Linked DNA regions of Homo sapiens: region 2 is linked to region 1. A link means that fine-mapping ties the variant in region 1 to the expression of a gene that starts in the linked region. Tissue or cell type: sun-exposed skin. Region 1 holds a variant in brackets; the other region holds the start of a gene. All regions are shown on one strand. Distances are between the middles of the regions. Region 1 overlaps RAP1GAP (RAP1 GTPase activating protein). Region 2 holds the start of RAP1GAP (RAP1 GTPase activating protein).

Region 1 (15,699 bases):
CACTCTCAGAGCTGGGGGATGTGAGGGAGGATAGACTTCACGGAGGAGAGGGTCATGGGTTCCCCAAGAGGAGGGAGAGGAGGGGCTTCATTAGCAGGGCTACCACACAGGCTTCTCCTTCCCCGGAGATCAGAGACGTGGACAGGGTCTCTCCCCAAGCTCTCCATTAGGCCTCCAGCCAAGCAGTGACCTACTCTGAAGATGAGTAGACTGAGGCAGGGGCACTGAGGGTTGCTGTGGAGGGTGAGCTTTCTGGACTAAGCAGGGTGCCCCCGCCTCTACAATGGACCCCTCCCTGAGCCTCTGGGAGTAGCCGCCTTGGCATTGAGGGGCTACCAGGGCTACCGCTATTACGAATGACAGTGACCGTGACCATAACTGACGCTCATTGGGCCTACCACATGCCAGGCCCTGTGCTGAGCCCTCGTTCTAGGCCCGAGGGCATGGCCTCCTCACCACACTGGTATTCCCACTTTACAGACAGGACCCAGCTGTGCACAGAGGTCACACGGCTGGCCGGCAGCAAAGCTAGCATCTGCATGAGACCTGCCTGAGTCTAAGCCCGGACTCTCTGCCCACACCACACCCTTCCCTGAGGAAAGAAAGCAGGTCTGGCGAGGGTGAAGTCAGCTCCTATCACCCTAAAAAGCCTGCCGAGGCCACCTCTGGGGCAGGGAGAGGAAATGCCCAGTGGTTCCCGGGATCCTGGGGCTGGGCAAGCAGGCCTGGCTTCCGCTGCTGCCTAGGGCCACCCTGACGTGGCTGCACCTCTGCTCAGGTCCCATCAAGAGAGGCTGGTCCCTCGAGGGTGACTCAGATGATCGCTGGTGGCCTACAGCAGGCTTGAGTCAGGCAGAGCCGGGGCTGCCACACCCCAAGAGGGGAAGGACCCGAAAAAGTCTGGCCCAGGAAGAAGACTGAGAAAGCTGTGAGCCTCCCTTCTTCTTTTTTTTTTTTTTTTTTTTTTATGACAGAGTTTCGCTCTTATTCCCCAGGCTGGCGTGCAAATGGCTTGATCTCGGCTCACTGCAACCTCTGTCTCCCGAGTTCGAGCGATTCTCCTGCCTCAGCCTCCTGAATAGCTAGGATTGCAGGCATGCGCCACCATGCCTGGCTAATTTTGTATTTTTAGTAGAGACGGGGTTTCTCCATGTTGGTCAGGCTGGTCTCGAACTCCCGACCTCAGGTGATCTGCCCGCCTCAGCCTCCCAAAGTGCTGAGATTATAGGTGTGAGCCACTGCGCCCAGTCTGAGCCTCCCTTCTAATTCCACTCAGCCCAGCTACTCCAGCAGGAGAAATGGCCCGGAGGAACCATCCACAGCCCCACTTATGCACTGGAGGCCTCTCCACCTCCCAGGAGTGATGGCATCTTACAAGAGGGGTCTGCGCTGGGCAATGCTTGACCCAAAAGGACAGATATGGTGGCAGTGGCATTTCAAGCCTGTGGCATCAGTGTGGGGGAGATAGTCTCAGACACTGACTGGCTAGGTGAGCTTGGGTTAGTGACACAGCCTCTCTCAGCCTCAGTTTCCAAAAACATTCATCGCAGAGCCTGGGCAGCTCATGGGAATTCACTCAATGAAAACTTTCACATCATTTGTTCATGGTAAACTCTGGCTCCCCAAGTTTCACTATTTGTTGAATGACTGAATGAATGAATGAAGGTTGGGAGTCACTGAAGGGTTGTGAGCAAAGGAACATCCCTACGCACAGGTTCCTGCATATTGCAGGGTACACTGACATGGGGAGAGTCTGGAGTGGGAGGGTGGGGACTAAAGAGAGGTCCATAGAAATAGTTACCGGCAGGCTGGGCGTGATGGCTCACACCTGTAATCCCAGCACTTTGGGAGGCCAAGGCGGGCAGATCACCTGAGGTCAGCAGTTCAAGACCAGCCTGGCCAACCATGGCCAATATGGTGAAACCCCATCTCTACTAAAAAAAAAAAAAAAAAAAAAAAAAAAAAAAAATACAGGCTGGGCGTGGTGGCTCACACCTGTAATCCCAGCACTTTGGGAGGCCGAGGTGGGCAGATCATGAGGTCAAGAGATCCCGAGAACATCCTGGCCAACATGGTGAAACCCCGTCTCTACTAAAAATGCAAAAATTAACTGGGCATGGTGGTGCACGCCTATAGTCCCAGCTACTTGGGAGGCTGAGGCAGGAGAATCGCTTGAACCCGGGAGGCGGAGGTTGCAGTGAGCTGAAATTGCGCCACTGCACTCCAGCCTGGCGACAGAGTGAGACTCCATCTCAAATAAAAAAAATACAAAAATTAGCTGGGCACAGTGGTGGGCACCTATAACCCCAGCTACTTGGGAGGCTGAGGCAGGAGAATTGCTTGAACCTGGGAGGCAGAGTTTGCAGTGAGCTGAGATCACACCACTGCACTCCAGCCTGGGCTCCAGAGGGAGACTCCACCTCAGAAAAAAAAAAAGGAGGGGGGAAGGGAGGAAGGGAGGGAGGGTGGCTTCCAGGCAATTCCACTGAGGCTCCCATGGGGACTCTTTAGTGAGACCTACTATGTGACTGGGACTGCGTCAAGCATATACTCTCCCCCAACTACTGTGCAGGAAGGTTGGTGTTATTTCTCTCCATTTTCACAGATGGAGAAGCTGAAGCTCAGAGAGGTGAAGCCACTTCCCCTAGCGAATGGGGGATGGAGCTGGAATTTAAAGTACATGCCCTAGAGGAAGTAGGGATCCTGCAGTGGGGTGGAGGGCAGAGGCTGCCTGGGGGTCAGGAAGTCCTGGGGTAGAAGCCCGGTAAAGCTGGAGTGCTGGGTGCGGCCGTGGCTGCCCAGTGGCGGCTGTTGCTTGTGATCAGGCTAGTCCAGCGGTGCCCTTCTGTCTTCCCCTAGGCTCATATGATAGCCATGCAGCAGTCCCTGACAAACCCCCTTCCAGAACCCTCTCTGCCTCAGTCTCCCCATGTGTAGGTGTCCATTTCACTCAGGATTGCTCATGTGGGTGCAGAACCAGAGCGGCCTCTGAAGGCCAGGGTGCTCTGGCTTGCACCTGGGACCCCATCCCAGGGCCCTTGGCTCTCCAGTTCCTGGCTGGCCACAGTCCTGTCCCCCGAAGGCAACTCCACCTAAAAAGCCACTGCTGAGGCCGTAAGGGGCAGGGGAAGGGAGGGGCTCCAGGATGGGGACAGAGAAGGAAACTGGAGGCTCTGGGCACTGCCTGTCCATCCATCCCCAGACCTGAAGGGGTAGAAGAGGGACAGGAATGACAAAGCCACGTCCTGCCGGGCGTCTTGCATAATCTAATTTAATCCTCACAGTTCCCCAAAGAGGCAGATGTTCAGAAACCTCCTGCTTTCCACACGAAGCTCAGAAAGGTGCGTTAACTTGCCCAAGCTCACACAGGCAATGAGGCAGGCCAGGCATTTGGACACAGGTTTGTTGACTTCAGAGCCCAAGATCTGAACTTTATAACATGTACGTCCAATCCTGTGGACCTCCCCACAGAGCCTTACGACTTCCAGCTCAGGAACACGATCCAGCACCTCAAGTCAAGTCGGAAAGGTAATAGTAACAACAGCAACGGCCGACACAGCTGATACAGAGCTTACTATGTGCAGGCTCTGCTCTACTTTATTGTATTAACTCATTTAATTTGCATTTTTCAAAGGAGGGAACTAAGACACAGAGAGGTTAAGTAACTTGTCCAAGGTCACACACAGTAAATGAAAGTCTGAAGATTTGACCTCCCCCAACATCTGGTTGCAGTGCCCTTAACACTATACCACTGACACTTAGTAAATAGTAGTTGCTCAATAAATACTTTTTTCTTTTTCCCTTTTTTTTTTTTGTTTTTTGAGACAGGATCTTGCTCTTGCTGCCCAGGCTGGTGTGCAGTGGCGTGATCAAAGCTCACTGCAGCCTTAAACTCCTAGGCTCAAGCCATCCTCCCTCCTCAGCCTCCCAAGTTGCTGGGACTACAGGCACCACCATGCCCAGCTAATTTTAGTAGAGATGAGGTCTCCCTATGTTACCCAGGCTGGTCTGGAACTTCCGGGCTCAAGAGATCCTCCCACCTCAGCCTCCCAAAGTGCTGCGATCACAGGAATGAACCACTGCCCCTGACCTTTTGTTGTTGTTAAGAAATGGGGTCTTGCTCTGTCACCCAAGCTGGAGTGCAGTGGCATGATCATGGCTCACTGCAGCCTTGAACTGCTGGGCTCAAGTGATCCTTCCCCCTCGGCCTCCTAGTAGCTGGGACTACAGGTGTGTGCTCGGCTAATTAAAAATAAATTTTTTGTTGTTGTTGTTGAGATGGGTGTCTTGCTGTGTTGCCCAGGCTGGTCTGGAACTCCTGGCCTCAAATAAGCCTCCCACCTTGGCCTCCCAAAGCACTAGGATTACAGGCATAAGCCACTGCACCTGGCCCCAATAAATACTTTTGAAGCAATGAATGAAAGCCTCTTCCCTCCTCACCAGCCCTCTGCCCTTCTCTGCTTCACGTCCTTTCCTGCTCAGCCTTCCTCACCAGCTCGCCCATCTCTGCCCCACCTTTCCCAGCACCCCTCCAATCCCCTTCTTCCTCTGGCCTCTGCAGACCACCCACAATGTGGTCGTTTCCTCCCACTTCACGAACCCGAACCTCTCTGTCCCTCCCCTTCTCTCTCCTATCCCACCCTGGTCTCCTCCTGGTCTTCTCCATTCAGTTCACATCATGGATGTCCCCCTGGTCTCTATCCCTTCCCCACGTCTCCAAAAACCATCCAACCCCCTGGCCTGGCTCAGCTTAAAATGCTTTGCATTCCTCCTGGGCGGCAGCAGCTGCGGGGAGCCCAGAGCATGCCGGGACATGGGGCGCTCTCCCCTCTCCTCCTTCCCCCTGCCATGACCGTGGTCACATCTGTGCAGCACCCTGGAGCTTACACTGGCATTGTCTCATTCCAGAGCCACAGCAACTTATTAAAAATCCAGATGAGGCTGGGCACGGTGGCTCACACCTGTAATCCCAGCACTTTGGGAGGCTGAGGCGGGTGGATCGCCTGAGGCCAGGAGTTCGTGACCAACCTGGCCTACATGGCGAAACCCCATCTCTGCTAAAAATACAAAAATTAGCTGAGAGTAGTGCCACGCGCCTGTAATCCTAGCTACTTGGGAGGCTGAGGCAGGAGAATCGCTTGAACCCAGGAGGCGGAGGTTGCAGTGAGCCGAGATTGCGCCATTGCACTCCAGCCTGGGCAACAAGAGCAAAACTCTGTCTCAAAAAACAAAAACAAAAACAAAAAACAAAAAAGAAATCCAGATGAGATATAAACCTTTTTTCCAGATGAGAAAACTGAGGCTCAGAGAGGTTCAGTGACAAGCCCCAGGTCGCACAATGGGAAAGGGCAGGGCTGAGATGTGACTCCAGTCCAGTGTCCCTTCCACAGCGTGCATCCCACTGTCCTCAGCCCAGGCCCTCAGTCCCGTCACCTGGCCTCCTGCCCCATGACCTCCCATCACGGCCCTGGCTCCTGCAGCCACCGCCAAGCGCCTTCCCTAGGCCCAGCTCCGGCTCTGCTCTGTCTGGCCTGGACACCTGCACGCTGCCTCCTCTGACACATGAAATGGGAGCAGCCAGAGAGGAGGTGACCCGCCCAAGGTCACATGGAAAGCTGGAGCCAACCTGGAGTCTGGGCCAGGCACATTCCGGGGTCACCTTCAGCCCCTGTGTCTGTGTGGCAGCTATCTCTCCCTCTCGGGGAGAGCACCCATCTTTTCCAGGGAAAGGGTGAAGCAAGGGTGTGGGGGAAGGGCCCAGCTCCTAAGTGGGATGGGCCC[G/T]GCCGGAAGCCGCTGCTGACAGCTCCCCGGTTTCTTGGCAACTGTCACTGCACCTCCTCCCCCTCCCTTATCTCTGCATCGAGGTAACAATAATAATCGCACCATCGTGAGTGCAGTTCTTTGTACTTTTCAAAAGCCTTCTTTATCTGCTCACTCCTGGGACTCTCACCGGAACTGGAATGGAGATAAGGCAGTCACTAGGATCCCCAATTGCCAGCAGGGCAAACTGAGGCTTGGAGAGGTGAAAACACGACCTCAAAGTCAGCCAATAAGGCCGTGAGCAGCAGATCAGGGATAAGAACACAGGCCTTCCACCAGTCCAGGGTGGGAAGATCTCAAGAGAGTTCCATACTCTGCAAAACAGCAGGGTCAGCCCAGGCTCAGTGGTTCATGTCTGTAATCCCAGCACTTTGGTAGGCTGAGGTGGGAGGAACACTTGAAGCCAGGGGTTCGAGACCAGCCTGGGCAGCAAAGTGAGCCCTCATCTTTACAAAAAAATTAAAAACCCAGCCCACTGCAGTGGCTCACACCTATAGTCTCAGGCACTCAGGAGGCTGAGGTGGGAGGATCACTTGAGCCAGAAGTTCCAGGCTACAGTGAGCCATGATGGTACCACTGCATTCCAGCCCTGGCGACAGAGCAAGACCCCATCTATACAATGGAAACAGACCAACAAAACATCAGGGTCAGACTCAGGAATGGTTGGGCAGAGGGGGAGACCAAGCACAGGTGGCCAGATGCCTTCCTAGGGTGATTCTCAACTGTTAACCAGCTGGAGGGGTGGTGAGAGGGTCCTGTCTTTTTCTCTCATCTGCAAAATGAGAGATAATGTACCCACCTCATAGAGTTGCTATAAAGTGCTTGTAATTATTATTACTGGCCACTCTCCTGGAGAGCCCAACCTTTTCAGGGCACCAGAAGTGTGGTGGGGCTGTCCTGGGTGGTGGGCTTGGCCCTTTGGCCCCCCGGAGATAGCTGCCCTGGATGGTGGTCTCCCAGTGGGTCCAGCCCCTGCTGACTCCCTCCAGCCTCAACCTCATACCTCCCCTTTCCTGTCCTGCCCCAGCCGCCTGTCCTGGCTCTGTCCTAACCTCCCCAGGCTGCAGGCAGCTTTCCTAACCAGCCACACTGTTCACAGGCACCCCCCCTCTGCTGGGGGTGCCTTCTCCTGCTTTTCTGCCTAGTGAACCATTGATGCTTTGAAATTCAACTCAACCAGGTGAAACTCTGGTGGCCAGGGCAGGTGGTACAGGACCATCAAGGCAAGAAGGCTGGGACCGGGAGCAGGGGAATGGGGATCTGGACAGGTGACAGTGCCTGGAGCAAGAGCAGGAGGAGCCCACCCTGAGGACAGCCACCCACTGCACACAGGCTGGGAGACCGGACACGGAAAGAGGGAGTGGTCTGGAAGGGCGGGGGAGGGGTTCAGGGAGCCAATGAATACAGGGCAGAGAAGAATTTTTTGGGGGCAGCAGCCTGGAACAGGGGCCTGAGGGGTTCCGGCCAGTCCAGCACTGGTCATCAGAAGTCAGGAGGGGAAGGCCTGGGTCCAGTTCCCTGGGGTCTTCCTGGTTTCCAGGAGATCAACCTGGTTCTACCAAGTTCTACCACCCATGTGGGGTGGAGGATGAGGACAAGGGCACAGACCTCCCAGTGAGAAGAGGGCTGTGGAGGGCAACCCTGAGAGAGGCTCCTTTGGATGAGGGCTGGGGGGCTGCCAGAGCCGGGTCTCCTAGCCCTGGGCATCGGGTCTGAGGGGACTCGAATCTCCTGAAACCAGAACCAAGTGGCTGCCCCAGAACTGCCCCCTCCCGGGGGGGGGGGGGGGCCACAGAAGCCCATTGTTTTCTGAGCTCAACCAGCCGGCACTGCCCTCCCCTTGGCTTGCCCCTGTCCCTGCCAAAGTGCCAGGGAAGGTGGCCGGGGCAGCCAGTTGAGCAGGTTTCCAAAGCTAGGTCTGGAGAGGCTGGCCCCCTCTTCCCCAGCCCACTGGGAGCCTAAGCAGACAGGCACAGGCACGGGAGGCTCCTGTGTCCCCTTTCCCTGGGCACCGTTGACCTCTCCTAGGACTCTAGAGGGAGCGTGGCGATGGGGTAGAGGAGCGGCAGGGGGACTATTTGCCATGCGGGCACTGTGATGTCATTCAATCCTTATGACAACAACCCTGACCTCAGGATGCTATCTTCACCCATTTCAGAGATAAGGAGGCAGAGGCTTAGTGAGGTTTATGATGGGCCAAGGGCCTCAACAGCTACCAAGTGACAGAGCTGGCAGGGTCCCCCTGGGGGTGTGGGTGGGAGACTCAGGCCCCAAGCTGGGCAGAGGGATGGGCAGGAAGGTGGCACATGGGGCCGCCACCCTCGCCCCATGCTGGCTGCATGCCGAGACACCCGGATCCCGGAGCTGGGCCAGGCAGAGGCCTCCTGAACAAATAACAGGTTGGCAGCCTAGAGAGGTGGTCACGGGACCGGTCCCTGCCCAGGGCACAGCATCTGGGAACCAGGCCACCCATTTACCTGCTGTCTATCCAGCATCTGTCTCCCTTGCTCAGGTGGCCTGAGCCCCACTGTGGCCAAAACCTGACCCTTCCCACCCCACCGAGGACTTCAGTGTGGACTGACTCCTCCCCTGCACTGGGGTAAGGAGGAGGAGTGACTCTGAGATGACCCGGCCGCAGGGCCTCTTCCTGCCGGGCAACAACATCATCTGCTTCCCTAGCCTGGCACTTTCCAGTTTACAAACTGCCTTTGCCATCAACCCTCTCAACAGCCTCCTGAGGAACACAGAGCAGTAATGCTAATCTCCATTCTGCCTGGAAGAAAACTGGAGCCTGGATGGAGATGGTGACTTCCAAGCTTCCACCCCGAAGCTCAGCCCCAGCTGCTCTGCCCCCTGCCCACGTCCACGCAGGACACAGCTCCCACTGATGGGCAAGTCTGGGCCAGGGTGACCTTCCCAGCACCCGTCAGCCCATACATGGTATTACAGCCGCCTATGCTTTCTGTCTCTCCTCACTCCCTACATTGACCTCATTGTCCCTCCCCAGCCTCCGCAGCCCAGGGGGTCTCCCTTCTCTGAGCTCCAGGCATTCCTTCGCTCACTCACCCACTCGGTCATCTACCCACTCCCCCATCTGCCCTTCATTCCTCTGCTCAGTCATTCATTCAGAACACATGTCCTGAGGTCTGCTCTGGAGTGGACAATGGTGCTGGGTGCTGGGATCAGAGTGGGGTGAACCAGGCCTCCCCAGTCCCAAAGCAGAGCCCCAAAGATACCTGCCTGGACTGTTCCTGAGGAGCCTCTGGCTTCACTGCCTAGACAGTGAGTCCCCCAGCACTGAGGCCTTGCTTAATCCTTTCCTCCCGCTCTGCACCAGCCCTAGCTGGGGCTGGGGTTGCTGCCTCATAGGCTCCAGGCCAGTCTGGTGAGCAGAAGTCCCTGCCCCTCACAACTCCCCAGGCGGGGTGACCACCCAGGCCAAGGCGAAACCCCCACGGGGATAGACAAGGTCACCATCTCCTAACCAAAGGTGACATGGGGAAGCCCTAGCTCTGCCCCCAGATCACAGTGTGTGCAGGATTAAGTCACCATAACCTCTCCAAGCCTCAGTTTCTCTACTAAAAATTGGGTCTCAGGCCGGCTCTCTCATCCTACAGAGGACGAATGGGAGGATGAGAAACTGGAAACTGAGTTCACCAAGGATTGGTTGGAAGCAGAACCCTGAAGGAGGGCTTTCCCAGTGGAGAGGACCTTAGACTCTTCTAAGTCGCTTCTCTTCTCTGAGCCTCAGTTTCCTCAGCTACAAAATGGGAGAGTAACACCAACTTTGCAGGGTTGTTGTGTGGAATAAATTAGGTATTATATGGACAACCTGACTAGCCTAGAGCTGAGGACACAGTAGGTGCTCAATAAATTACAGGCTCCTGCCTAGAGAGGCAGTGTAGCGTCAGTGTGGGCTCTGGAGCCAGATCCTTGAGTGCGAATCCTAACTCTGCCACATAACAGCTGTGTGACCTTGGACAAGTTACTTAACCACTATGAACCTCAGCTTCCTCATCTATAAAATGGGGATAGCAGTGCTGACCTCTGAGGGTTAAATGAGTTCATTGGTGTAAAGTGCTTAACATTCACCATGAGCATTTCTTGGCCTTCCCTTCTCTTCCTTCCTTTCTTCCTTCCTCTGTAGGTGCCTGAGGACTGAGACAAGACTCCTAGGTGGAAGTTGTGAGAAGGTAGAAACGATGGGACAAACACAGCTGCCCAAGAGTAAAGCAACCTAGGCAGGGCATGGTGGCTCATGCCTATAATCCCAGCACTCTGGGAGGCTGAGGCAGGCGGATCACCTGAGGTCGGGAGTTTGAGACCAGCCTGACCAACGTGGAGAAACCCCATCTCTACTAAAAATACAAAAATTAGCCGGGTGTGGTAGCGCACGCCTGTAATCCCAGCTACCCGGGAGGCTGAGGCAGGAGAATCACTTGAACCCGGGAGATGGAGGTTGCAGTGAGCCGAGATCATGCCATTGCACTCCAGCCTGGGCAACAAGAGCAAAATTCCATCTCAAATAGAAAGAAAGAAAGAGAGAGAAAGGAAGAAGAAGAAGAAGGAGGAGGAGGAGGAGGAGGGAAAAGGAAGGAAGGAAAGAAGGAAGGAAGGAGGGAAGGAAGGAAGGGAGGGAGGGAGGGAGGGAGGGAGGGAGGAAGGGAGGGAGGGAGGGAGGAAGGGAAAGCAACCTGAGCAACCTGCCATGTAAGGTACCGAGCTCTGCATCAAGCAAAGGCAGAGTGAGCTTCTCAGAGGTGCAGCCAGGGAGATCTGAAGGTGTGGGAACGGGAGGAGCGGTGGGGGGTTTGACTGGAGGACCTCAAGGTGCCTCCCACATTTGAAATTCTTTTTTTTCTTTTTTTTTTTTTTTTTTGGTGGTGGTTGGGGGCAGGGTCTCACTTTGTCGCCCAGGGTGGAGTGCAGTGGTGAGATCTCAGCTCATTCCAACTTCTGCCTCCTGGGCTCCAGCAAGCCTCCCACCTCAGCCTCCCAAGTAGCTGGGACCACAGGTGCATGCCACCACATCCGGCTAATTTTTTTTTTTTGTAGAGACAGGGTTTCACCATGTTGCCCAAGCTGGTCTGAACTCCTGGATCCAAGTGATCCACCTGCCTCAGCCTCCCAAAGTGCTGGGATTACAGGAGTGAGCCACTGCATCCAGCCCCACATCTGGAATTCTTTGCCTCTTGATGACTCTAGGATCCCTGTAACTGAGGGCAGAGGCAATGGATGTTAAAATGTGCATATTCTTTGGTCCAGCAACCCCATTTCTAGGCATTTATTCTCCAGAAATATAACACCAATGCATAAAGATATATGAACAAAAAAGTCATGAAGCAGGGTTTGCAACCGCAAACATCTGGACGCCACTTCAATGTCCATTACAAGGAGATTAGTTAAATATATCAAACCATGGAATACTATACAGCAATGACAAAGAAGGTCTTTAGTCTTGATGGAAAAGGGGGTTTGAGGCATATTGTTAAGTGAATAAAGCGGGCTGCACACAACAAAAATCTCATTTGTAAAAATTTAAAATTACATGTCAAAGTTTACATGGCTGGCCGGGAGTGGTGGTTCACGCCTGTAATCCTAGCACTTTGGGAGGCCAAGGCAGGCGGATCTCTTGGAGCCAGGAGTTCAAGACCATCCTGGGCAACATAGCAAAACCCCATCTCTACCAAAAAAAAAAAAAAAAAAAACCACAAAAATTAGCCGGGTATGGTGGTGCATGCCTGTAGTCCCAGCTACTCAGGAGGCTGAGGTGGGAAGACTGATTGAGCCTGAGAGGTTGAGGCTTCAGTGGGCCAACATTGCACCACTGTACTTCAGCCTGAGTAACAGAGCAAGATCCTATTAAAAAAAAAAAAAAGAAAAGAAAAAAAGGCCGGGCATGGTGGCTCACACCTATAATCTCAGCACTTTGGGAGGCCAAGTCAGGTGGATCACTTGAGGTCAGGAGTTTCAGACCAGCCTGACCAACATGGTGAAACCCCATCTCTATTAAAAATACAAAATCAGCCGGACATGGTAGCGCATGCTTGTAATCCCAGCTACTCAAGAGGCTGAGGCAGGAGAATCGCTTGAACCCAGGAGGCAGAGGTTGCAGTGAACCAAGATTGCACCACTGCACTCCAGCCTGGGCGACAGAGCAAGACTCTGTCTCAAAAAAAAAAAAAAAAGAGAGAGAGAAAAGGGGCTTGCTGCGTATGGGACCCTGAGGCCCAAAAGCCCTCAGAATTTTGAGTGGGATGAAGCCCAGTTGGGCTGTGTCTGTCTGTCCGTCCTCTTTCTCTTTAAACAAAAACAAAAACAAAAAGAAAGTTTACATGGCTTATCTCTGAGAAGCAGGACCACTAGGAACTTCTGCTTTCTGTGGCAAATACTTTTCTGCACGGTTTGGATGTTTATAATGAACACTTAGTATTTGTGTAATCAGAAAAAAATTAAAGATTTTAGAGAGCTGAGCACTCACTATGACTCAGCTCCCTGAGCACCTGACTGCTTTACCCTTTTCCATCACCTTGAGAGGGAGGTATGACTCACCCCTTATTCCAAGGGGGAGAAGCTGACACGAAAAGAGACTAAACACCATGACCAATGTCCCTGAGCCAGGCGTCACAGAGCTGGGTTGCACCCCCATTCTGGCTGGCTCCCAAGCCCACACTCTTTCCCCTACATTAGGCATTAGACAACCTGCTCCGAGGGTCAGGGAAGAGCAGAGGCAGCACAGAAGTGGCCCAGGCAGCTGGGCCCAGGGATGTGCCCTGTGACTTCAGCTGTCACGTCCTGCAAGCCAGGCCAGCCGGGTTAGCATGTGTGGGGACAGGGCTGTCTACTTCATTTGTAAATGCAAATGTAGGCTCTGCTCCTAGCGCGGGCTCCATGCCCTGAGCTGCCCCAGGCTGGCAGGTGCCCAGCCCCACCCCTGGCACTACCCCCAGAAGCCTCAGGGTCACCAGGCAGGTGGGCACGTCCCAGCCCAGGCCCTTCCCTGGAGCTCTAAATAACTTTCTGTGTTGATCAACCTGTTTGTGGATGGATTTGGCATTGAAGGTCACTTGTCACCTTCTCAGTGACAGCCTGGAAAGGTGACAGTCACACCTGAGTGTGTCTGAGTCTGGATGGGCCAGAGAACAAGACCTGAAAGTCAAACGGAACTGAGTTCAAATCCTGCCTGTGCCAAGCTCTAGCTGTGTGGCCTAGGGAGAGTCCCTTCACCTCTCTCAGCCTCTGTTTCCTCGGCTATAAAATGGTGTTGAGAATTTCTCCCTGCAGGGCTGCTGAGAGCATTAAATGAGAGAATGCACGTGAAAGTACGTCCTAAGCTAGAAGCCACCTTGCACGTGTAGAGAAGAGTTATGACCTCACTCCTGTGGGGGCAGGCGGGGGGCACAGGCACATCTGTGCGGATGTGGAGTGAGCAAGGATCCACCCTGGCTGGACCCCAGGGCCCTGCCGCACAGACTCAGCCGGTGGGCGGGGCAGCGTCTGACACTTTTCCTGGGAGTCGGCACCGGGTGTTCCGCAGCTCTGCCTGGTGGTGCGAGAGGGTGTGTGTGACTCTGTGGGTGAGAATGGAGATGGGAGGCCCCGGCAGGAGCGTGAATGGGTGTGGGAGGGAAAGCGCTTGTGTCGCATGTTTGGATCTGATCACACCACCCACCTGCCTAGAAGGCCCCAATGGCTTCCCGCCGCAAGCAGGATCCAGACGCCCGCCTCACGTGGCCCACGAGGCCCTGCGTGTCTGCTCCCCATCCCCGGCCCCCCTCCCACCCGCCCACTGTCTCTGGCCTCATCCAGGGCTTCTTTCCTCCTTCTCCAGACTCCTTTCCGCTCCTCAAACCCGAGGTGCTCCTTCCCACCTCCAGGCCACTGCACACGCTGTGCCCCCTGCCTGTTACCCCCTTCCCGTCCGCTTGGATCACATTTCAGGTGCTATGTCTGTATTCAGTCTTCCAGAGCCCCCTCCCCAGACCAGGAGAAGCTGCTCCGAACCTGACCAGCTTTCCCAGAAGCCTGTCTTGGGCCTTCATGGATTTACCTGTTGCGTTTGCACATTTCATGGTGTGACCATTAAGCCACTGTCAGTCTCTCCTGCTAGAAATGGGGTTTCTTCAGGTCATGCCTGGGTCTGTTTGGGTCTGATCTGCTGCATGAATGAATGTGTATGTCTGTGCCTCTATGTTCATGATGAAGCTGTCTCTACAAGGGTCAAGTCTATGAGTGTGAGTAGGGAAATATGTGTGTGTGTACATGTAATGGGTCATCTCAAAGAACCTTTCCTCAGCCTGCAGGCAGCTGGGCTGGGAAAGGCCAAGGCAACCTGGGGCCAGTGCCTAGGCTGGCTGGGGTGAGGGGAGAACAAGCAGCAGTTCCCTTACCCCCGACTAAAATAGGTCCAGGGTCTTTGCGCCAGGTAGATCCAGTCAGGTGGGCTCCAGGCTGGAGGCCTGACTCTGCCCTGCAGTGAGCTCCACCCCTGCCTGCTCCTACAGGTTGGAGCCCAGCCTCCTGCCTGCACAGCCCAGCTCACTTGAGACTCAAGCCAAGCCTGGTCTTCCATGGCTGCCCACACTCCCCACCACCCCACCGGGCCTGTCTTGTGGGCAGCAGTTATTTTTTGTGTGTGTGTGGGATGGAGCCTTGCTCTGTTGGCCAGGCTGGAGTGCGGTGGTGTGATCTCGGCTCATGGTAATCTCCACCTCCTGGGTTCAAGCGATTCTCCTGCCTCAGTCTCCTGAGTAGCTGGGATCACAGGCATGCACCACTACGCCCAGCTAATTTTTTTTTTTTTTTTTGTATTTTTAGTAAAGATAGGGTTTCACCATGTTGGCCAGGCTGGTCTCAAACTCCTGACCTCTGGTGATCCACCCACCTCGGCCTCCCCAGAGTGCTAGGATTACAGGCATGAGCCACCACACCTGACTGGGGAGCAGTTCCTGATCTGAAAGAAGTGGGCTTCCAGCCTCTCTGCCTTCTCAGCCACCTCCACCTGTTGCCAGGAGATGATCTGGAATGTTCCAGCTTTGGGGCGGGGGAAGGAGTCCTATTCCTGCCCCCAATCCTTTACATTTTCTCTACCCTCTGCCTGGACTACTCTTCCCACAGCCAGCTCCTTCCCATTCAGGCCTCAGAGAGGCCCCTCCCTGATACCCTTGGCAAAGCCAGGCCTTGCACCCACCCCATCCGTACTACACATTACCCATCTGAAGCTACCTTAGCTGTCTGTCTCCTGCACTGGAGGATAACATGCGTGAAGCAAGGACCGTGTCTGTCAGGTTCACTGCTGCATCCCCAGTTCTTAGACTAGTACCTGGCATGTGGTAGGAACTCCGTAAGTATTTGTTGAATTAACGAGTGGCTAATGGAAGCCCTGAAAGATCCCAGGAGGTGAACATTGCCCGTTTGCAGGCATGGAAACTGAGGTTCAGAGAGGTTAAGTCTCTAGCCCAATGTCACACAGCAAACAGCTGGACCAGGTCAAACTTAGGGACAAGCTAACTCCACTAGAACCCCAGCACATCAGAGTGTATCACAGCCAACCTTCCCATTTCATAGGTATGAAAATGAGCCTCTGAGAGGGAGGGTGATGTTTCTCTAGGTCACTTGGGTCCGAGGCATGTGTTTCTTCCCTCCTGCAGCATGGGGTCAGAAACAGCTGCATTGTTACACCGGCCGGCCCTTTAAAAGCACCTCCTCACTGCCTCTCACTCACCGTGAGGCAGGGGCCATGAACACCCCCACTGCACAAAGGAATGAGCCAAGGCTCAGCAAGGTGACGGACTCCTCAAGGTCACTGGCCAGGACCTGGCACCAGGCCCATCAGACTCCAAAGCCAGTGTTCTCAGGGCCAGTGCCTAAGGCCAGTGC
Region 2 (15,699 bases), 37 kb after region 1:
GCAAGGCTAGAGTCTTCAGTCCCATGGCATCCTGAGCCTGCTGCCCGGGTGGGCACAGTGCCTACAGCAGTCTGCCAGCGGGTGGATGGCCTCTCTCTGGACCTCCAACACAGGGGAAGACGCAAGAGGCTGGTGATGGTGACATCAGCTCAGGCCTTGTCCTGGCAGCCTCTCGAGGGTCCCTGACGCTGCCAACTTTTGAGCAAGAAGAATCAGGGCTGCCCTGGCAGTTCTGGCACCGAGCTTGCAGGCAGGAAGAAGTTCCCAAGGTCACCCTCCATCAGCCACCTCCACCCTACCCCTCGAGCCCTGAATCAAGGAGTGAGGCCTTGGAGAGGGCTGTCCTCTGAGCAGGGTACTGGGGTGGCTTTCCCTCGCAGAACTGGGGCCCAGAGTTCAGGAGCCAAGCAGAGGGCTGGACCCATCTGCCCCACCTCCACCTTCCCTCTGCTGCCCCCACAGCCTGGCTGCGGCAGACACATGGCTCCCGTGGCCTTGAGAAGGTCACAGCCTCTGAGGTGGCTCAGGCATCTGATCCTCACCCACTGCCCCCAAACCCCAGCCTTGCCAGCAGATCCACCGTCTCAGGGGAGTCTGAGGAACAGGTACTGTAGTTTCAAGAAATACTGCAATTCCCCCAGAGATACAACAACACACTTGAGGCTCACACAACACAGTCACCAGCTTCAACTCATGGGAGCTGTACTGCAAAGACAGAAACTACATCCTCCCATTCCACAGATGGAAAGGGAGGCTCAAAGAGGCCGGGCGGCTTGCCTGAGCTCACCCAGCTAGTGGGGTGGGGCCAGAAGCGGAACACAAGGTTCCTGACTTCCTGAACCAATGACAGCCCCCGGCTCTCCAGCTCTCATAGCAACCTAGTTCCCGGGTGGCTTGGTGCCTTGATCCTCTTGCCTGCCCCTGGGATGGAAGAGGCTGGAATCCTCTCCTTTGCACACTGGGAGAAAATGAGGCCCAGGGAAACAGGCGAGGGGGCCATCCTTACACAGCAGTGGCAGGGCAGAGAACTACGCCAGGTGGTTCCTCATTCCAGGCTAGTGGGCTCAGCCTGCCCCTCCCGTGTATCCTGCATTGATTTTGGGGAAATGCAGACTCCTCGGCCTGCCATTCAAGGCCCTTAATAGACTGACCCCGATTTGTCCCTACCCCCACCTTCCATGAATCCAACCCAGTGTCCACATTGCCACCCCCAGCCCTTGCCCACGCCGTAGCTGGTCTCGCCTCCAGGAGCGCCTCCACTTCTCCTCTTGCTGTGCAACTGGTAATTCTACTACTAACATTATCACTTACTGAACACCTAATATGTGCCAGGCAAGGACTCCTCAAGGAGGAAACTTACCCAGCTCACCTGGTGATAGCCATGCCAACTACTTTGGAAATGCGAAGTTACGGAAAAAATTCTCACTACTCTCAAAACACTGAAGAAAAGGCTTATTATTTTTTTTTTCTGGCTGTAGAGAAGTATTGGATGTTTTTAGAAAAGATTTTTCTCCAGATTTGTGTTTGCTTTTCCTTCAGTGTGTCTCTCTGTGTTTCTCTGAGTGCAGCTTTATATTTTTCAAAGCAGTTCCCAGCCAGTATGTCTGGCCTCGCAAACAACATCCCCAGGGAGGCAGGCAAATAAAAGCTCGTCATCCCCGTTCTAGGGAGAAAGAAATGAGGCACAGAGAAGGCAGGTGATTTTTCCAAAGTCACACAGCAGAGACTGGATTTGGCATTCTGAGGACTCCCAATCTATGTCCTTTTAGACCCAGCAGAATGCCTAGGATAAGCTGGGCACTGCCCTCAGTGTTTGCTTGCATTCACCTTCTTATCCCTTGAAACATACTCATCAGGCAAGTGCTATGATTCCCACTTCCTAGATCAAGAAACAGACTCAGAGGGAGAGAGGAACTCACCAAAAGTTGTACGGCTGCTCAGTGGCAATGTCAGAATTCGAACTTGGGTCTGCTTCCTCCGAATGGGGGTCCGAGGGAGGGTGGCCTCGGTTGGCAGAGGTATTAACCTGTAGAGTGGGCAAGTCACTTTCTCTCTTTGAGCCTCACCTCCTCATCTGACACAAAGCACCGGGCTGTGGCAGGGACCACAGGACCCAGCTCATCTCTGTGCCCCAGTGCCTGTCACAGTCCCTGGGATCCACTACATGCTCATTAAATGCTTAGTGAGTAGGCACACGAGGCTGCTCCCATTGTGCTGGTGCAAAGCAGGAGTATCATGTTTTGCTTCCTTTCTTGCAGTAGGAAAGGCTGGAATCCCAGTGGGACCTTTCTGTTTTGGGGTGTCTCCCCACCAGCACTCCTCTGCCTCTTTTCCCTTCTTCCTCTCTGAGTCACCACCTGCCTGACAGTGCTGGTCTTTAGCCCTAAATATAGAGCACATTTTGAGGCATAAAATGTCCACAAATGTGAGCAACATAGCTGCAGCCCACTGCCCTTGGGTACCCTCCTCCTGGGCTGACCCCAGGGTGGCCGCCCCAAGAAGCCCTGAGACTGGCGACCCCTGCTTGGCCCTAGTGTGGATCCAGAGGCTGCACTCTGCAGGAAGTCATCAGCCTGGGGCCCCATGGGCCCACACTGCCACCAGAGCCCAACTTCCTTTCCTTATTGGCACAGGGCTGCCACCTCACACCTCTGACTTTCCTCATCCCCCAGCCAGGCTGAGCTGCCTCCCAGAGCTGGAGCTGGGCCCAGAGAGGGAAAATGACTTGTCCGGGCCACACAGCCAGCAAGAGGCAGGGCCAGGCTTGGACAGGGAATCAGCACTCTGGCAGGCTTGGTGTGAGTGCCGAGGGAGCATGGTGGAGCTGGGAGCCCCTCCCCATCTAGCATGTCTGCCCTGGAGGCCTCACCTAAGCCCACAGAAGCACCTCTCCACAGCGCCAGTCTCTCAGAGGCACAGGGTGCCAGGGCCAGCCTGGCAGAGGTCCTGGCATGCAAGGAGGTGAGCAGAGAGTGCTGAGGGCTCCCTTCCCTTCACACCAGCTGGCCCCCAGCCTTGCTGGGAGGACAAAGCAGAAACTGGGGCCTGGTAATGCCTCTAGCAAAAGTGGAAAGGAAAGGGAACCCCAGAGCCGCTTGGAGCCTGCACTGGGTCCTGTCCTGTCTTGGGAAGGACCTGCAGAACAACACCTTCAGAGACAGCAAAGGAGCAGCCTGGGGAGAGGCTCCCGTGGCAACCCGCTGGGTATGTACACAGAGGGGAGGCAGGAGAGGAGGGTCCACTGAGTGGGAAGCACCAGGCAGTTTCCCAGGATTCTTGGGGCCAGTCAAGCTGGGTCCACATGAATCAGAAAAGAGGGAGGAAGGGGAGGCTTTGCTGGGGACGGTCGGGGGCCTCCACTCCCCTCCCCGGGTGATGAAGCATTAACATCCCACACGCAGGAAGCTGATGTAATTCATGCGTGTGTGCACCCATGATGGCCTGGGTGTGGGTGGGTGCATGTGCGTGTCTGCCAGGTTCATTTTTAAGGGCGTAGGGCATCCTCGTGTTCTTCCTGCATGCGCGTGTACCATGTGTGCACCCTGGAGGAGATAATGGAGGCAGACGACAGAAGACGAGGGCTTCTGAAAAGGCTCTTCTCCTTGCTGACAACCTCCGTCTCTCTGTGTGTACACACGTGCCAGCATCTGGATGGTGTGACTCTCAGTGCTTGTGTGTCAGGCAGAGTCGGGGGCAGGGGTCTTGGCCTGGGTGTGCCCGTGTGTTCCTGTGTCTGGGTCTCAGGGTATCTGTCAGTCTAACTGTATTTGCGTTTGTGTCTGGCCGTGCTCAGGTCTCGGTTGTTTGCACAGCACATGCGGCTGCTCAGCAGCCTCTGACAGCCAGGACAAAGGCCTCCGTAGACAGATGGCAGCATGGAGGACAGATCTGCCCGAGGAGTCCTCAAAGGGCCTCTTGGCCCCAGAATTTGACAGCAGGGCAGGGGCAGGGCCAGGTGAGAGGGAGGTGGAGGCCCTGCTGTGGGAGCCTGAGGCCTAAGTGGCAGAGACCTCTCTCCCTGCTGCCCTCCAAGAGGCCAAAGGAAGAATCCTTCTTGTCTCCTAAGGGTGGAAGGTAGTTAGAGCCAGGAGAGGGGCCTCCTGAGACCCCTGCCAGGCAGGCACCTTGGGAAGAAGAGAAGAGGAGAGGGCTTTGCCCAAGCAAGCTGGGAAGGTCCCAGGGTGAAAGCACCATTATGGTGCTCCACGGGACAACCCTCCCTCCATGGGAAGGGGTGGCAAGGCAAGCCTAGGACTCTGGACCCTCTCCTCAACCTGACCCAGCTTCCAGCCACAGGCACCCTCACCTCCTGGCAGCAAAGGGGAGCAGGTCCACATGGACCACTCCACCACGGCGTTCACCCTTCCTCCTCTCCACCGCTGTGGAGATCTTCTCCCATCAAGAGTCAGAGTACCACGATTCTAGACCTTGCTGAAGGTGACTAGGTGACCTCAGGCAGTTCATTTAGCCTCTCCGAGCCTCAGTTTCCTCACCTGTGCAATGGAGGCTTCAGCGCCTGCCCTGAAATATTGCTGTGAAGGGGGAAATTGCTCGTGCCACCTGAGGATTAATCATTACCCTGGAACCCTTCCCAAGGCCATCAAGGAACACGCACCCCTTACCAGACCTTCCAGCTGCTGGGGGCTCTCAGAGTGAGGCTGAGGTCATGGAGAAGGGAATGGGGGGCCCCCATGGCCAGCTGGACCTGATCACTGCCTCCCCACTCAGCCACAGCCCTCAGGGCCCTGTGCCAGTCCAGAAGCCCATTCAGGGACACCTTTGGCCAATGTTCTGTTTCATCTGCGAGGCAACCTTCCCCAGTGCCCCAACCATAGCGTTTTCCCCCAAACACCCTCAGGAAGGAGGGACCACTACCTGTGCAGGGGGGGCCAGGAGCCTCCTGAGAGCCTCATATGGGGAGGAAGTGGTACCATCTCACCCCCATTGCCTTTCTCTCCTACTTCCACCTGGCCAGCTTCCCTCAGTGCCCCTCCTGCCTCAGTGCCCCTTCCCTCAGTGTCCTTCCTGCCTGCCGCCCCAGGGGCCTGACCTCTGACTTGGCAGGGAGGGGAATGGAGCCCGGGGACAGAGGCCAATGAGCCCTGAGAACAGTGGATGTTCTTCCTGACCCCACCACCGGGCCTGTGCTATGACCCCAACAAGGACTCCGAGGGCATGCACAGGCTGGGGTCTGTTATGGTAGGGAGGGGGCCGCTCACCTCCGGAGACTGTGTGTGTGTGCAGGTGTGCGTACACAAGGTTTCTTCCCCAAGCCCAGGCGCCCCGCAGCTGGCACCAAACCCTGCAGGGCACGGAAACCGCCCCGTGAATTCCCACCGAGTCCTCAGATCCTGCCGAGCCAGGGGAGGCGACGAGGGGGCGCCCAACTTCGTGACGCGTGTGCCCCGCTCTGCCGCGGGGGTCAGGGACAGGGGAATGCGTCCTGTCTCTGGGGATGCAAGGACATCACCGCCCTCCCCGCTCAGGGTCCTTGATCTGAGGCCCCCACTTCCCTCCTCTGAGGACAGGAGCGCCACCCTCTGGGGGGCGCTAGGGCTTGGGCCCCTCCCCAGGGATGGAGGAAACGCGCCCACTTCCCACAGTCCCTCCTCTAAACCCCAGGCGCCCCCACCTCGAGGTGGGCGGAAAACTGGACTCCCCACCCACCCAGGGGGGTGGGACCAAAGCCCCCTGGCCGCGGCCTGGACCAAGTCCAACAGGCTGGGGGTTCAGCCGGCTCAGTCCAGGCCTCCCCCCACTTCTCCAGCTGCTGTCAAGACCGGGCTGCGCGAGCCCAGCTGCGCCCACCCCTCGCCCCTGGAGACCCGGGTCCCCCACGCGTTCGCCCCCACCCTCCGTCCCCGCCCGCCCGCGCGGGGTCTTCGCTGCGAGCCGACGGGAGTCTGGACACCTCTGTCCCCTTCCCCTTTCCAGGGCCGCAGCCCTGGCGGGGCGCACTCACCCAAGGGCCTGGGCCGGGGGCGTCCTGGGCTCGGCACTCTGGTGCCCGCGGCCGCCGCTGCAGCTCTGCTCAGATGCGGCCGGCGCTCGCCGCCGCCGCAGTTCGGGGAGGGGGACGTCACATGACCGCGGAGCGCTCCTTCCCCGGCGCCGCTCCCCACTCACTGCGGAGCCCAAGCCGCGGGCGCGGGAGCGGCGGGGAGGCCCCCGCCCTGCCGCCCCGCCCCGCCGCAGGTCCTGGAGGAGGGTTCTCGGTGCCCCCATTTTACAGGTGGGGAAACTGAGGACCAGAGAGGGGCAGGGACTGGCTCAAGGTTACACAGCTAGACAGTGGCAGAACCTGGGCGACAGCCCAGCTGTCCAGGCAACAGCTCATGCTCCAAGGGGACTGGGACAACTTCTGGATCAAGTGGAGACGTCGGGATAGGTGGGGCCCACGGCCCCCATGGGCTCCGCTTGTCTGCAGGCGCGGGAGGAAGGCGCACAGGCTTCGCTGGGCGAGAAAGCTGCTGTGCCCTGGCTGACGCCCTCCTCACCCGGGCGCTCGGCGCGCTTCCTGGCAGAGGCCACGCGGTTGACCCTCGCCAGCCCATTCGCGGCTCTTGGACTTTGTCTCTGGACTGGGCAGCTCGCCCCCGCCCCAGCCTAACCCGGGCCCAGGGCGGGTGTGGGGAGGGGAGCCACAGGCTACGGAGAAGTGGAAGGGAGGCACCCGGAAGAGAGTGGGATCAGAACAAGAGTGAAAACCCAGGCAGGGAGGGGGCGGCAGAGATCACCTCGGCCTGACTTCCAAGGCCCAGGGAGAGTTAGAGACTTGCCCAAGGTCCACAGCAAGTGAGCGGCCTGCCCACTCGAGTCCCTTCTTTGATGGTCAACAGAGCCTGAGGCTCCTGTGCCCCACTCCCCACCAAGGGGGAGCCCTCACCCACACCTCTTTCTGTTCTCCACTGAGCTCCCTCCCCGGGGAACAGCCCACATGAAGCAAAGAAACACGCAGTGGGTCGGCAAGGCCAGAACTGGGGACAACGGGTGAGGGGTATGGTTGGTGGCTCCAAGGTCATGAACTCGTCACAGAACACTCGTGTTCCAGGGGGATCTCTGAAATCTCTGGATCTCACCCCAATGTTCTAAGAACTGGGAAAACAGGCTGCAAAAGGTACAAAGACAGACCTCTTTCTCAACCATTTCGAATTGGTGGGTCAAGCCGACAGGGCCCTCCAAGGTCAACAAGTCCAATAGGCCCACTTGACAGATAATATTTAGGGAGGGGAAAGTCCAAGACATGTACTCAATATATTTCTTGAGCATCTACTGTGTGCTTAAAACCACAACTGTTACTTCCAGCTCCCACTATTTTCCCGGCCACATGGGCTGCATTTCACAAAAGGAAAGATCCGAGGTCTTCAGCAACTCTTACATCAGCCTCTGGAGGATCTGAGACATGCAAGCCTCCGGGTTTTCAGTCCCATAGGGGCTGGGGACCAGAGCCATGTTTTCCGGTCAAGACTCTAATCCCCGTGGAGAAAAGGTGAATAAGGGGGAATAGCAGGAAATGCCCCACCCTCTTCCCACGCATCCACCCACCTGTGAAAGGGCAGAGGGGAAGGTAGATCAGGCACTTGTTCTTTTCAGTCCTCCCTCCAGCAAGCTTCCCTAGCTGTATATGGGAAAGAGACCCCAGCCCAGGGGGGTTTCTCAAACTTCTAAGAGTGCAGGAGCGGTCTGTAGACTCAGATTCAGATTCAGTGGGCCTGGAGCCTGAGCTCCTGCATTTATAATGAAGCTTCGTGGCTGCAGACATCCTGAGCAGCACTGGTAGTACAAGGCAAGTTGTCAGGGCAGGAGGAAGACTCCTGCGGTATCACATGCTCACTCATGGACCACCCAACCCGGGGGGCCCTTTGATCTCCTGCCTAGGAATACACCAGGACTATATAGTTGGCTCAAACACTGTAATAAAAAGGCAAGAAGTTGAATGAGGCTGGCCGAGGCGCTTCTGGGGATGATGGTGAAGGGACTGTGGGGCATAGCAACTGCCCTAGACAGGTATGTCCTGCAGGGCTCTGGTCCTGGGAGATGCTTGGTCAAATACATCCTACTTAGGAAATGCCAGCAGAATGCCTATAGACCTTCAAGGGCAGCATGTACTGGGTGGGGCTGGCTCATCTTCAGCAGGGGCGGGGCTCACAGATCTCAGAAGTACATGGATTCCAGGATCCTTTTAAGCACCATCTCTCTACCCATCCTCTCGCTTTTTTATGCATTGCTCCCTGAATTCAATTCTGAGCACAATCTTCATGCTTCTTGCTTCCCTAACTCCTGTTCCAAAAGGGCCCCTTTCTCCTCCACGCTTTAAGACAGAGACCCTCAATTCTGGCCAGGCATTGCTGATGGTACATCCCAGAGTGCTGAGTGGAGACAAAGGTGTCCCACCTGAGCTGGAGGGAGGGGGCAGATGGAGGCACTGGAGATGCAGAAATGCAGCAAGCCAAGGGGTACAGCTGTGTGACCTCTTCATGGTCCCATAACCTTCTGGAGTCTGGACCTGCAGACTCCAAGGTCCTTAAGAGCTCAAGAGCCTATTAGCCTGGGGGTACTGAATGTCCCCGACCCTGGCTGAGCAGACCAAAGAACGAAGTCTCTTCTATGCCAGGCGTCTCTATTTCTTCTTTATAATCAAGGAGCTTTTCAATTACAGCATTTTCCCCTTTACAGAAAACCTCCCTCAATGCAAGAGGCTTATAATCTCCCATGTGTCCTGGGGGGCACCATTCTGAGACTGTCAGGGCCCCTGGCGAGGAGGCAGCACGTGCCGTAGGGGGCTGGGCACAGAGCTTGGCATGCAGCCTAGCTACTGAGGGGGAAGATTGGACAAAGGCCCCGGAGCTTTGCTTTCCCTGTCCTATTTCAATCCAAACCACTCAGGACTGACCACTCACGCATGGCTGCCTCTGGGCACAAGCCTTGTCTCAGACACTTAATACATTGCGACCCAGCCACCATCTCTGTGCTCCCTATCACTGAGAAATGAAAGCTGGCTTTAAAAATCTGGCATCCAAAAAGGCTGGAGAACGAAAACATGGGTGGCACCACGGTAAACTCCAAATAATGCATGAGACTGCAGGTGAGGGAGGGGGGAACAGTCCTAAAATGGGAATGATGCCTCTTGGAAATAACTCCCCATCTCTGCCCGCCCACTCCTTCCCAGTCAGATCAAATGGGAGAAAAACTGAGATAGGAACTGCCCACCAGAGCAAGTAGGGGAAGAAAACCCCAAAGCAGCAAGTCCTCAAGGTGTGCTGTCCACAGAGCCACAGGTAAGGTCTAGGAAAGGCCGGCAAGGAGGGTGGGCTTCAGGGGCGGCTTGGAGCAGAGGACAGTTCCACTCTAACCACAGCAAGGCAGGATGAAGAGTGGCAGTCGGCGCCAGGGCACACGCATCAGGGAAGGGCCAGCGGCCCCCGTCTGGGTGGGAGGCTGCCAACCTGGTGCAGCAGACATGACAGAGACTACCCCTGGGGTTAGAGGACTTTGGATCATGAATAGTTAGGAAGTCCCTGTTTTGAGGACAAAGAAGAAAAGCCTGAAGGTAGGGACAGTACTGGTCAAACCAAAGTAGTAAAAAGAGCTCTCCCCCAAGGGGCCACGGGAAAACTTCTAACAGATTCCAAAGTAGTCATTCATTTTTCCTTACTGAGGATGTATCATGCGGGCCGCTGTGGGAATACAGTGGTAAGATGGCCAGAGCCCTGCTCTCAGGGAGCTACAACAGTCTAGCACTAATTAGGTTGATTCATTTGTGGGGGACTGAATGGTTTTAGGTGCAGACATAAAATCCAGCCTGGCCCTAACTCTGGCTTCCAGTACAGGAAATAAACAGTATACTCTAGTTCCAGAACTCCACAGTCTAGCATGACTTGGAGCCTCCTTCATCCAGAGAACAAGTGACATGCTGTGGATGAGTGAGAAGATGCTACAAAAACTCCAGATAAACCAACCAAAGAGGCAGCTCAGAGACTAATAAAACAAGAGAAGTCCTGAGAGGTAGTCCTGTTTGGTAGCTTTCCAAATGTACTGCCTGGAGCTTCCTCAAGGGAGTAGGTGGGTGTGGGAGGAGGCCCCACTATCTACTTCCACGGAGTTCATGTTTGACAACTTCTACACATCCCACTTCCTTTCAGAGAGAACGCCGAGGCTCAAAGGGGAACAGACTTGTCCAGGATCATAAAAGGAACTGGTTGCAGCTTAGCATTCCCTTGGTTACAAAACACCAGAGCACCAGGGAAAGGAAAACCCAGATAGAATTGTGCAGAGGCCAGTGTGCCAGCAGGCAACAATCCAACCCAGGCAGTGGCTGCGTCGGCCTCCTGGCCTCCCTGGAGTGCGTGCCCCACTTCCTGTGGCTGAGGGCCTGCCTCGCCTGGCAGCACTAACGCAGATTTGGAATTCAAGCAGCCATTCCAGCTGCTGTTATAAGGCTGCCTCCCTCCCTGTCCGAGAGCAATTTCACTTCAAAGGCCCTCCAAGTCCTTGAAAGCAGGGTTTTTTTCCCTTTTTTTTAAAGCATGTTGGGGAGAAACAGATGATGCCCTCTATTTGAGATCAATACAGTAATTATGTTGGACAAGCTCTTAGGGCTAACTTGAGGGGGAATTCACAGCCTCATGAATGACAAGCGTGAAAGCTCATGGAATGAGAAGGACCAGCCTGCCACCCGTGTTTTGCTTGTGGGATGCAGCCCATTCCGCAGTAGGATCCCCTTCTGCAGCAACCTTGGTCTGGTCTCTGCTGGGTGAGACACAGCAGAGGCCCAATCCACTACAAGCTGGTGCAGGTCCCAATTCTAAAGTCAAACCAGGCCAGGCGCGGTGGTTCATGCCTGTAATCCCAGCACATTGGGAGGCCAAGGTGGGCAGATCACTTGAGATCAGGAGTTCGAGACCAGCCTGGTCAACATGGTGAAACCCCATCTCTACTAAAAATACAAAAATGCTGGGCGCGGTGGCTCATGCCTGTAATCCCAGCACTTTGGGAGGCTGAGGCGGGCGGATCACAAGGTCAAGAGATCGACACCATCCTGGCCTACATGGTGAAATCCCGTCTCTACTAAAAATACAAAAATTAGCTGGGCGTGGTAGCACGTGCCTGTAGTCCCAGCTACTTGGGAGGTTGAGGAAGGAGAATCGCTTGAACCCTGGAGGTGGAGGTTGCAGTGAGCCAATCCAGCCTGGTGACAAAGCAAGACTTCACCTCAAAAAAAAAAACAAAAAACAAAAACAAAACAAAACAAAAAAACTAGCAGGGCGTGGTGGCAGGCACCTGTAATCCCAGCTACTCGGGAGGCTGAGGCACAAGAATCGCTTGGACCTAGGAGGCGGAGATTGCAGTGAGCCGAGATTGTGCCACTGTACTCCAGCCTGGGTGAGAGAACAAGACTCAGTCTCAAAAATTAAAATAAAATAAAACAAAGTTAAACTAATGTCACTTTGAAGAGGTCATACAACTCCTGGCAAGCCACAATTCTGCAACCTCCTCCTTCCTAAAATCTAGTGAGGCTCAAAGAGATATTAAACCTTACCACATGCAGAAATCTCACATGGTTAGTATCTTGTATTTATTTGATAACTGGTTCTGTCATTTGTTGGGGGAGGGGAGACGTAAGAAATACCTGTTTCGTGTACTCTACCCTTGAACGATATTATTCACTAAGTATCACCAGGTAAATAATGAAAAACGCAATTCTCAGACCAGGAAGTGACCTCTGAGCACCAGCCACAGGCCTCCGCATGGCTTTGCTTCCCAGTGCCCGCAGAGCCATGCCTCGGCAGCTCGAGACATCTGTTCCTGATGTTCTTAGCAATGACAATCAAAACAACTGAAGCTGCCCCTTTGGGGCAGAAACTGCCCATCACGGAGACATAAATCTTCAACATGCATTCTAAGCGTGTTTCAAATACCTTTCGACATGACCCTGCAAAAAAAACACCGAATTGAGAAGGCTTGCAGTTTGGCCATTGGCTTCATTATTCTTATGGGCCAGGAGAAAAGATTTATGTGACAGGATGGTCGAACACCTGTCTAGTTATCATTTTAGTTGGAAGGGCTTGAAGTAAAAGGTAGTTTCTAAAGTTCTCAGAGAAGATGCTCCAGGTAGCTTTGCTAGGTGGTTACAAGGCCTCTTTTTGAAGACTTGCAAAAGAGATTCCAACAGCATTTCCTCAGAAAGGCAACAGTTCTTCTAAATGCAAAGAAAAATACAAAGCCTTTTACCTCAACAATATTTATTACTGTTTAATCCTCTGAGTGTAGTAAACAAAAATAGCAAATACTGCTATTTTGAGAGATGAAGAAATTAAGGTAAAGCAAGATTAAGTCACTTTTCTTGGTTACAAGGTAAATGGTGAAATTATCTGTAACACAGGTGGCCCAACTTCTACAACTCCACACTTTCAACACTTGCCTGTATGTTTATGTGCTATCTGGATAGCTAGCAGACTCCTTAGCCCAATTAACAGCCAGAATGGAAAAAAAAAAAAAAAAAAAATCCAAGGTTTGAGATATATGGGATGGAGAAGTGGTTTTGTCTGCCAATGAGACTGTCTACCTGGCACACACTACCTGACACAGAAATGTTGCTCAGGGAAATCAACAAAGTGCTACCTACCATTTTACAAATGTTTATAATTTGTACTTTAATGAAAAATAGAGGGTTCGAATAATGTTGATAAATCCCCAGCCAGTATTTCTGCCTACAGAATGTCTAGGAGATGGGTGTGTGTGTGTGTGTGTGTGTGTGCGCGCGCGCGTGTGTGTGTGTTTTGGGTGGGGGTGGTGATGCCAGCTTTCAGAAGTAGAAATGTTGTTGACAAAACCCTGTACTCTGGGGTGGGGGTGGGAGTATGGGGCGTTATCACAGACATGCACATTTTTTTTTTGTGACAAGGTCTCACTCTGTCGCCCAAGCTGAGTGCAGTGGTGTGATCACAGCTCACCGCAGCCTCGACCTCCTGGGGTCAAGCAATTATCCTGCCTCAGCCTCCAGAGTAGCTGGGACCACCGGCATACCTGGCTAATTTTTGCTTTTTTATAGAGATGAAGTCTCACTATGTTTCTCAGGCTGGGAAAATCTTCTTAAAATGAAAACGCTGGCTTTTAATCTGCATGCACTCTGTTCGCAGTCCCCTATTAACACTGAATGAGCTGAGGACTAAAGTACCCAAGAGAAAGGATATGATTCTGCCCCATGATTCGGTAACAGGAAAGACAGGCTTTCTTGCTCATTTCGCTTCAGCGGTTTGTTTAGACAGAGATAAATCATCCCTTGGGTTTTTAAAACAGGTTATTCAACCTGAGCATTAGATTCCAATATTAACCAGAGTCTGATGAACAGATCTATGACCACATAGACCAACCAAAAGCACATTTAAAATAACCAAAAAATTCACTATGGATTATGCTCCCACAGAAATAAAGGGACACTCATATCTTTTAAATTTGGCAGGAAGGTAACAGTAATTCTAAACAATAGAGTTCATAAATACACAGAAAGATACTTACTCCCCAGGAAATGAAGACACCCAAATGCAGCCTATATTTCAGTTCGTGGTGACAATCTGTACCAGTGTAGTATGCTGAACACATTCGTTTCAGATTAAAGAATGGTCAGAAATATCAAGGGGAAAAGACCCAAGCTTCATAATACCTTATACCGGAGACTGATCTAATATAAAAAAGTACACATGCATGGCATTAGAACCCCAACACAAAGAGTCTCTGAACTTTTCACAGTCCAGAAGGCAAATGGACTCCATCTATTCATAATTACAGACGAAACGAGAATCGGGCTTTAGGTCATACCCTTTACCTGTTTTTCCCTGTACCAAGTGAGAAGGGTGGCAATGCAAAACCATTCAATACAAGCATACGTTTCTTTGCAACTCTGCCTACTATGGGTGGGAGAGGCCCCAAGCCCAGGGTTTCAAAGAGTACAGGAGTGGCCTGTGGATGCAGATTCCGATTCAGCGGGTCTAGGGCCTGAGCTCCTGCCTTGGTAATAAAGCTTCACAGTGTCACTGGAGCCGCTGGGCTGCAGTTACTTTCAGCAGTGCTGGCAGAACAAGGCAAGTTGTCAGAGCAGGAGGAAGATGACCCTGAGCCAAGGGCAGACTCTTGCAGCATCACCTGCTCACTCGGTGCCCACCCCACCCCTGGACAGAGATAATAAAGAAGCCAGTACTCAGAGCAGGTACCACCAGCCTGAAAGATTTACAAAAGGCTGTTATTTCGTAGCATTGCAGGAGGAAAAAATACCCAAGTAACAAATTTCAAAACTGTTATCAACAGCAAATTGGGGAAAATATATCAGATTTCTGGGGGCTGCTAACATGTTTATGTCAATCCCCAAAAAGAACCTTCTCTGGCCAACAAGCTTCTTTGTAAGGAAAAGGAAGTGGCTTCAATCAAGCATTGTGCGAACTTTTATAAAAGTCTTTACCTTGGGAAAGAAGAAGTTTGTGTTATTAGTTTTAGGCTCCTGCATTCATTTCTTTGGAGCTAATAAAACAATGAGATCTAAAAATCAGGATCCATCAGCTCAACTTCAAGTCCTTCCCCTGTGCCAACCTCAAGGCCAGAACAGTTGGTCCCTTGGTTCCACTCCTAGGATGGTTTCTCAGGGGGCTGTGTGCAGCTCTCACCTTCCCCCATAGATAGGCTCATTAGAGACCCCCTGCCTCCTCAGGGGACACAGACTGAAGACATTAGAAACACAGAGGGGAAACACAAACACGAAGTTAGAATTTTACCAAATGGCCGTAATTACTCTGACAAAAGGAGCTATTCAAAAGGGATGCTGCCAAGGTTATCGGGTCTCAAATCAAAATCTGCCTTCCCCATCCATGATCTGAGTTCACATTTTCATGAAAGGGGGAAAAAGCCTTGCACAAACCCAAGGCCAAGAAAAGTGTTAACAAGAGAGATGCCTAAGCTAGCATCTCAGCCACAAACTTACACAGACGGACTCAACAGAGAAAACTTTTTTTTTTTTTTCAAAGGAAAAACTCCAGTCTTAAGTTCAATTAAAAAAACCCCTTCAATATTCTTAAGAATATTGCTTCGGTTACGTGTTGCTAAGAATGATAATCCTGAGTTGGATGGACAGCACATCCATATACTTTTTTCCTTTTTTAAACAATGATCTAAGAGACCCTCTCAGGGCATTTTGGAATAATGCTTTCAAAAAGAGAACTGAGGTCCAAGAAACAGTGACATGGAGGACAGGAAGAACAAATTTTATAGAAACCTTGTGTTATCCAAATGTACTTCAGTCTGATTTACTCTTCTGATAGGTAGTCAGATTTTTTATTTTCAAACGTGCCAGGTACATTTCCCACTTTTGAATAACAGCAAAACCGGAAGAGGATGCTTTCACACATAATAAATGTTCTCCATCCTTTCTGAAATGCACCAAAGCAAAAAGCCTCTGAAGTCAAAACATGAGACATAATTCCTTGCTCATTGCAGGAGACATGCAGGTGCCCCCTCCTTTACCCAATACCAAGAGACAGACGGCCGGGCAGGTGTAAGGCGGGTGGCGCTGCAGCTGACATGGAGAAGAGTCTAAATCTGAAGACACTTTTCCACACTTAGGACAAGTTCTTCACTTTCATGCTTTATTGAAAGTAGAATATGAATCAAAGACAGGCATTGGTAAGCAGGTTATGTCTCTAAAATTACTTT

The links. PIP is the estimated chance that this variant, and not a neighbour inherited with it, causes the effect. A credible set is the group of variants that fine-mapping cannot tell apart.
Region 2: RAP1GAP starts here. The variant in region 1 is the best candidate, but not a certain one, in a credible set for the expression of RAP1GAP in sun-exposed skin (GTEx, PIP 0.85).

Annotation. Positions count from the first base shown.
Region 1 is chr1:21,626,465-21,642,163 of GRCh38, forward strand. All of the region lies in intron 2 of RAP1GAP (RAP1 GTPase activating protein), which reads right to left. Among named protein-coding and RNA genes, the nearest start is that of RAP1GAP, 35 kb to the right of the region's middle. RefSeq lists enhancers at 5,308-6,276, 7,381-8,129, 8,130-8,878, 13,178-14,007. The variant G/T (reference allele first, on the strand shown) is at 5,782.
Region 2 is chr1:21,663,292-21,678,990 of GRCh38, forward strand. RAP1GAP (RAP1 GTPase activating protein) reads right to left here and starts at 6,066. Exons shown (of 25, transcript NM_002885.4): 1 at 5,963-6,066. It overlaps USP48 (ubiquitin specific peptidase 48), which reads right to left. Exons shown (of 27, transcript NM_032236.8): 27 at 15,007-15,699. RefSeq lists enhancers at 2,767-3,267, 6,786-7,985 and a silencer at 5,988-6,137.